Homo sapiens: one gene and its partner. The protein of the gene in region 1 purifies or fractionates together with the protein of each later gene. This does not show direct contact. Each region holds a gene or a part of one and is shown in the gene's direction. Other genes may lie near its edges.

What was found. The genes of interacting proteins can lie anywhere in the genome.
Region 2: the proteins of TMPRSS11E (region 1) and SYT6 purify together in Homo sapiens (affinity purification with mass spectrometry; one large-scale study listed by BioGRID and IntAct). This does not show direct contact.

What each region holds. Positions count from the first base shown.
Region 1 is NC_000004.12:68,495,284-68,498,104, forward strand, and holds the end of TMPRSS11E (transmembrane protease serine 11E precursor), read left to right. Parts: intron 1-1,359; coding exon 1,360-1,521; 3' UTR 1,522-2,321; downstream 2,322-2,821.
Region 2 is NC_000001.11:114,098,370-114,101,869, reverse strand, and holds part of SYT6 (synaptotagmin-6), read left to right. Parts: intron 1-2,604; coding exon 2,605-2,776; intron 2,777-3,500.

The sequences.
Region 1 (2,821 bases):
CTATCTCTTTAAAATAATTATTTATTCTCGGACTCATTTATTCCTGTCTCTTATGCTGATTAAAGCTTTGTTTTCTCTTGTATCTTCTATTTCTCTATCCTGATTTTCTCTGCCTGCATATAGACTTGGGATTTTATTATCAAAATTATTTATTTTTGAATAGCTTCATATGGCATATCTTATTTCTATAAGCAGATTGCAGGTTTCTAGAGGACAAGATCCATGTGTTTATAATACTCTTTTTATATCTCCTCCTACATACGAGGGTATCAGTAAATGCTTATTGGTTAGTTGATTTAAAATCACAAATGTATTATTTCAAATTTACTATTATATTAGTTAATTTTTTAAATGGACAAAAGAAAATTCACAAGGAAGTTAGCATAACGTAGGGAAAAAAGCATGGGCTTCTGAATTAGATCGCTCTGGATTCAAATTCGGGGTCTGCCACTGATTAGCACGTGATCTCAGGCAAATTACTTAATGTTTCTGAGTTTCAGTTTTCTTAGTAACCCAGAAAAAATTAACCTAGTTCTATGTTTTTTGTAAACAAGAATTACATGAATTAATGAGATAATATTTTAATCAATTAAGAACTTCATAGAGTGAGTATGAATACTTAATGGGTGGTCAATAATTAGAAGCGCCAGGATCTTGAGGAATAATCAGCCAGTACCTCATTATTACAAGCCATATAAAGAATCAAAACTCTGGAGTTTGCAGGATATAAATAATGAGAATTTGTGATTTTATATATGCATTTCCTAAGTTCTGCCTTTTGCTAGACTAAGCACTTTACATTCACTGTCTTACATCATCTTCATAGCACTCATCACAGGTAGGTATTATTAGGAGCATTTACAGATAAATAAATTAAAGGTCTTAGCCAGCATGGAAAGGCCAAACTTGAGATAGAAACCCTGGTGTCTGACTCTAATGTCTGTTTTTTTTTGTTTGTTTGTTTTTTTAAAATCAGTAATAGACTCTTCACTCCCTTTTTTGGGGGGTTATGTTACACTAATAAAGAGTATAGACAAAATAATTAGGGAGTTATTTTGTCAGATGTGTCACATAAGTTAAGAGTACAGTTCTTCAAAGAGATGGAGGCTTCAATCTCATTGTTTTGAAGGTTTCAAGGTATTTCAAGGTTTCAAGGTTTCAATCTCATCAGTTTTCAAGGTATTGGAGGTCCTCTTTTAGGTGGATAACTGACATAGATGGAGAAAATCACTTATGCATGCGAACACACGGAATACTTTTGAAAATTACCCCTTTCATTACATTCTTAAGTTAGAAAAATAGCCAATTCCTCTGTAATGAACTGAATTATGAATTACTAATTTCTGTCTTCTCCTTTAGGGTGACTCTGGAGGACCACTGGTTAGTTCAGATGCTAGAGATATCTGGTACCTTGCTGGAATAGTGAGCTGGGGAGATGAATGTGCGAAACCCAACAAGCCTGGTGTTTATACTAGAGTTACGGCCTTGCGGGACTGGATTACTTCAAAAACTGGTATCTAAGAGAGAAAAGCCTCATGGAACAGATAACATTTTTTTTTGTTTTTTGGGTGTGGAGGCCATTTTTAGAGATACAGAATTGGAGAAGACTTGCAAAACAGCTAGATTTGACTGATCTCAATAAACTGTTTGCTTGATGCATGTATTTTCTTCCCAGCTCTGTTCCGCACATAAGCATCCTGCTTCTGCCAGATCAACTCTGTCATCTGTGAGCAATAGTTGAAACTTTATGTACATAGAGAAATAGATAATACAATATTACATTACAGCCTGTATTCATTTGTTCTCTAGAAGTTTTGTCAGAATTTTGACTTGTTGACATAAATTTGTAATGCATATATACAATTTGAAGCACTCCTTTTCTTCAGTTCCTCAGCTCCTCTCATTTCAGCAAATATCCATTTTCAAGGTGCAGAACAAGGAGTGAAAGAAAATATAAGAAGAAAAAAATCCCCTACATTTTATTGGCACAGAAAAGTATTAGGTGTTTTTCTTAGTGGAATATTAGAAATGATCATATTCATTATGAAAGGTCAAGCAAAGACAGCAGAATACCAATCACTTCATCATTTAGGAAGTATGGGAACTAAGTTAAGGAAATCCAGAAAGAAGCCAAGATATATCCTTATTTTCATTTCCAAACAACTACTATGATAAATGTGAAGAAGATTCTGTTTTTTTGTGACCTATAATAATTATACAAACTTCATGCAATGTACTTGTTCTAAGCAAATTAAAGCAAATATTTATTTAACATTGTTACTGAGGATGTCAACATATAACAATAAAATATAAATCACCCATTTGCTTGACATTATGATATGATAATCCACAAAGAAGGGGAAGATGGGAAAAATGTTACTAGTCAATTTATTGTAAATTTTTTTAAAATTTGAGGCTAGGATGAAAATTAATTTAATAACAATCAGCATGCTTATGTACTAAAATAATTGTGTTGTGGAATGGGAGGGAACGAAGAGTTCAAACAATTGACTGGAAAGGTTTTATTCATCTAAGACTTTCCCAAACAGCAAATCCTTGAAGGGAATGAGATCCAGGTGTTAGTGTACAGTCTAGTCATGCAACTGAACTGGGGCTCAGACCTCTATTTTGAGATGATTGTAGATATTTTTCTTCCCCTGCTGCTGTGTTTACAGTTCATACATGGTTAATGGTCCTGTTAGACTCCTCTTCGCTGAGATGGAAAGATACCATAGAGAAAATATCCTGGAAGCTGCCTCACTGCTGCATCTAGTGTGACACTGAATGGCTAACTGCCTGGATAACAAAACTGAAGAGTAAA
Region 2 (3,500 bases), on another chromosome or scaffold:
GTATCTGGAACAGTGGATAAAACACAGTAAGCATTCAATAAATAGATACCGAATGAATGGATGGTTGAATTTACAGCATGAGGAACCTGGCCCAAGGGTGAAGCAGTGGGGGTGTACTTGCTAGGAGCCTCTCGAACTAGATCTCCTGTTCTTGAGGATGAGTTTGAGGTTTCCCTCAGCCCAGACTTATTCGATGTTGGACTAAGCTAGGTATTGAATGGAGCTTATTAATTGCCTATTCTTGAATTGTGTGGCATTGATGTCTAAAACCCAGGATCTTCCTATTCTCAATGATCTAAACTAGCCCTGAATCAATTCTCTAAGCCTATCTGCTAGAACCATGACACTAAAAATAGCACAAAATAATAATAAGGACCAGTATGCTACAAAGGGGTGGTGAGCACATTCTAAATGCTGGATTTTGATTGCTCCCATGACAATGAGGCTGAAATACACTGCTGGTCTTTGTGTCCCCTCCCTCAGCTGCGTAGAGCATCATAGGCTGTTAGAGAGGAAAGGACCTCCAAGATCATCTGGGGCCAGCATTCCACTAGAAACCGCAGACTTTTGCCCCAGAAAAGCCTAGGGAACGGTCATCTGTCTGCTTGGCTTCATGGATGCTGGTGAAAGTGTTGGTTCCTGCAAGGGAAATATGTGCACTGAATTTTATAAATTTCATATCAGCCAGGCACAGTAGCTCATGCCTGTAATCCCAGCTACTCGGGAGGGTGAGGTGGAAGAATCACTTGAGCCCAGAAGTTCAAGACCAGACTGGGCAAAACAGCAAGACCTTGTCTCTTAAAAAAAAATGGATATGCCTTGTAAGGATGAACAGAGTTGGGGAAGGTTGCTAAGACATTTGCTCAGTGGCCCATGGGACAAGTGGCTCTGCCTCTATTTTTCCAAGCCTCATGATATGGAAATCTGCCCTGATGTGGGAGTGTATGGAAATAGGTAGAGCAGGGGAATGAGGCGGCACCTGAGCAACCTCAAGTCTGGAGCCACTTTGCAAGAAAAGGTACATCCTTATGGATTTTGCAAGCTGCTGTGTTAAAGACAGGTATTGGGGCTAGCTCTGCCCATCTGTCTACCTGAACCTGAATAATGTCCTGGGGCATATCCATAGAGAATGGAATCTGTGGAAACCAGAGCCTCATGCCGGTTCTCAAAACTCTTACTTCCATTTTACTGAAAATCCCTAAGAGAGGGTCCTTTCAAATGTGTAGTTTGAGACAGCAGGTTGATTAAACACCTCATGGTCTCTCCATAAACCCAACCTCATCTCCCCATGGTTAAGGCATAGCTACTGCTGCCACATGGATTAGTCGGCAGCTCATTTAGGTGTCTACAAAAATGCCTTTCAGGCTTGGAGTTTCTGATCAGGTGTCACAGTTCTCCCTAATTTCCACCAGGGATGTGTGCCTCATCTGCCATCTGAATGATGCCAGGGAGTACAGGGCCCTAGTGGGTGCTCGATGTCCAGGAGATAGAACCATATGCCTATGAATCACAGAGCTGGGGAGCAGCTGCTTGGCTGGCACCTCCTGACAGATTCACAGGAGCCCTGGCTTCTGGGCAACAAGGTGTCTCAGCACATCAGCGTCTCGAAAGCTATTATTACCTGTGAGCCGCCCTCCCATTTCTTGAGCTGTGCAGCATAAATAACAATTATGATGGTGACCGAGACACCTGTGCTATGAGATACACTAGGTTTCACTTCACTTGGGTGAGTAGAAAATTTCAGGGTAGAAAGATGACCATGAAATACCCATTCAGAAAACTAAAGAAAACAAAAGGATGGGAGGCACATGGAAGTTCAATAAAAGCATCTCTTTGCAGGATGGAGAGAATCCAAGATCCCACTGAGAAAGGAAATGTCAACCAGCTGCCCTGAGTCTCCCCGGGCCACAGCTCCCTCATTCTCCACTGTCCAGAAGTGGGCAGGAAATGGCTTCCAGGGAAGCAGAGAGCAGGGCCACTTCACGCCTTCTAGATGCCAAATGGAAATGGGATTATTGAGACAATGGGACCCAAAATTATGTTGTCAGGTGGGGAGGACATGAACAGCATTGTGATTGTTGCTGTTCATTTCACTCTGACACATTGTGTCTCCCTGGCCATTGTTGAGTCCTATTTTTACCCCGCCCCAAAACCTTTATCCTTTGGTTTGTAATTCTGGTAAAACAAAAAAGCCACTCAAAGAATAGTACTCCACATAGGTAAAAGAAATAGTGTCATTGTTCAGCCTCATCACCTTTTTGAGTCAGCCAGGGATTGACGAGCTGAGATTTAGGGCTGTGAACTGCATACCTATCGGCAGGTGTCATGTCTGATATGGGGCCAGCTTCCCCATTAGTAAAAGTCCATTAGGCGCTCTCCCAAGAATACTGAGGTAGCTAAAGACTCTGCATTTATTAAGCACAGAGTGTCCTCAGAGACAGGTGTGCTACATAAATACAAGGTGGTTTAATTATTTTAACAACCCACTGATACCATCTGATGAGCAGCAGTAGGTCTAGGGCTTCGGTCCCTTTGCTGCAAATGATGTTTGCAGACATCTGTTTAACATACTCCATTCCCTTTTCTCTGTCCCCATTGGCACAGATCCCTATGTGAAAGTGTCCTTGCTCTGTGATGGGCGGAGGCTGAAGAAGAAGAAAACAACCATAAAGAAAAACACTCTCAATCCTGTCTACAATGAGGCCATCATCTTTGACATTCCCCCGGAAAACATGGATCAAGTCAGCCTGCTCATCTCAGTCATGGACTATGATCGGTAGGTAGGCGTCCTAGAGGGACGTAATTCTACCCCTCACTCCCACTCCAGCACCAGCACAGGGCTCCTTGACCTTAGACCTTGTGATTCAGGGCTCAGCTTTAGGGTTCAGGCCTCAAATCTATCTGTACCCAAGAAGGGTGCAGGAGTTTGAGGAAGAGCATAGATTCTCCCTTAGCAAAGGTTCAAAGTTCTTTTCCCAACTGGCCTATCTCCGTCAGGGGCAGCTCTGTCCATCAGTTTCCCTGAATTCACCCCTTGCTATTCCCATTCTTCCATCTGGCACCAAGTCCTATTATCTGGCCTTTGAAATGCCCCTCTATCCTCTCTATTTCTGCTGTTGCTACTACTGTCACCCTGGGATGGCTGTGCAGCCTCCTAGCTGACCCCTGCCTCCATCAATTCCTGCCACAATTCGGTCAACATACTAAGGACACATCTTCCTAAATGACAGCTTTCTTCCTGGACCTGCCCTTCTCAAGAACCATCAATGGCTCCTGTGATCCAGGCTTTTCCCTTGGACTCTGATGGCCTTCCCTAATCTGGACCCAGCATATCCATCCAATCGGATCTCCCCTTCCTCAGATATTTTTCGTCTCTTCCACTCATCCTGCTCTTCCATCTAGGCTGGCTCAAAAACATTTTTCAACTACTCTGGTCCCCATAACTTCTTCTCTCCACTTGTCACTTTAGCTAAAGGAGAAAGAAACCATGCAATAAAGCC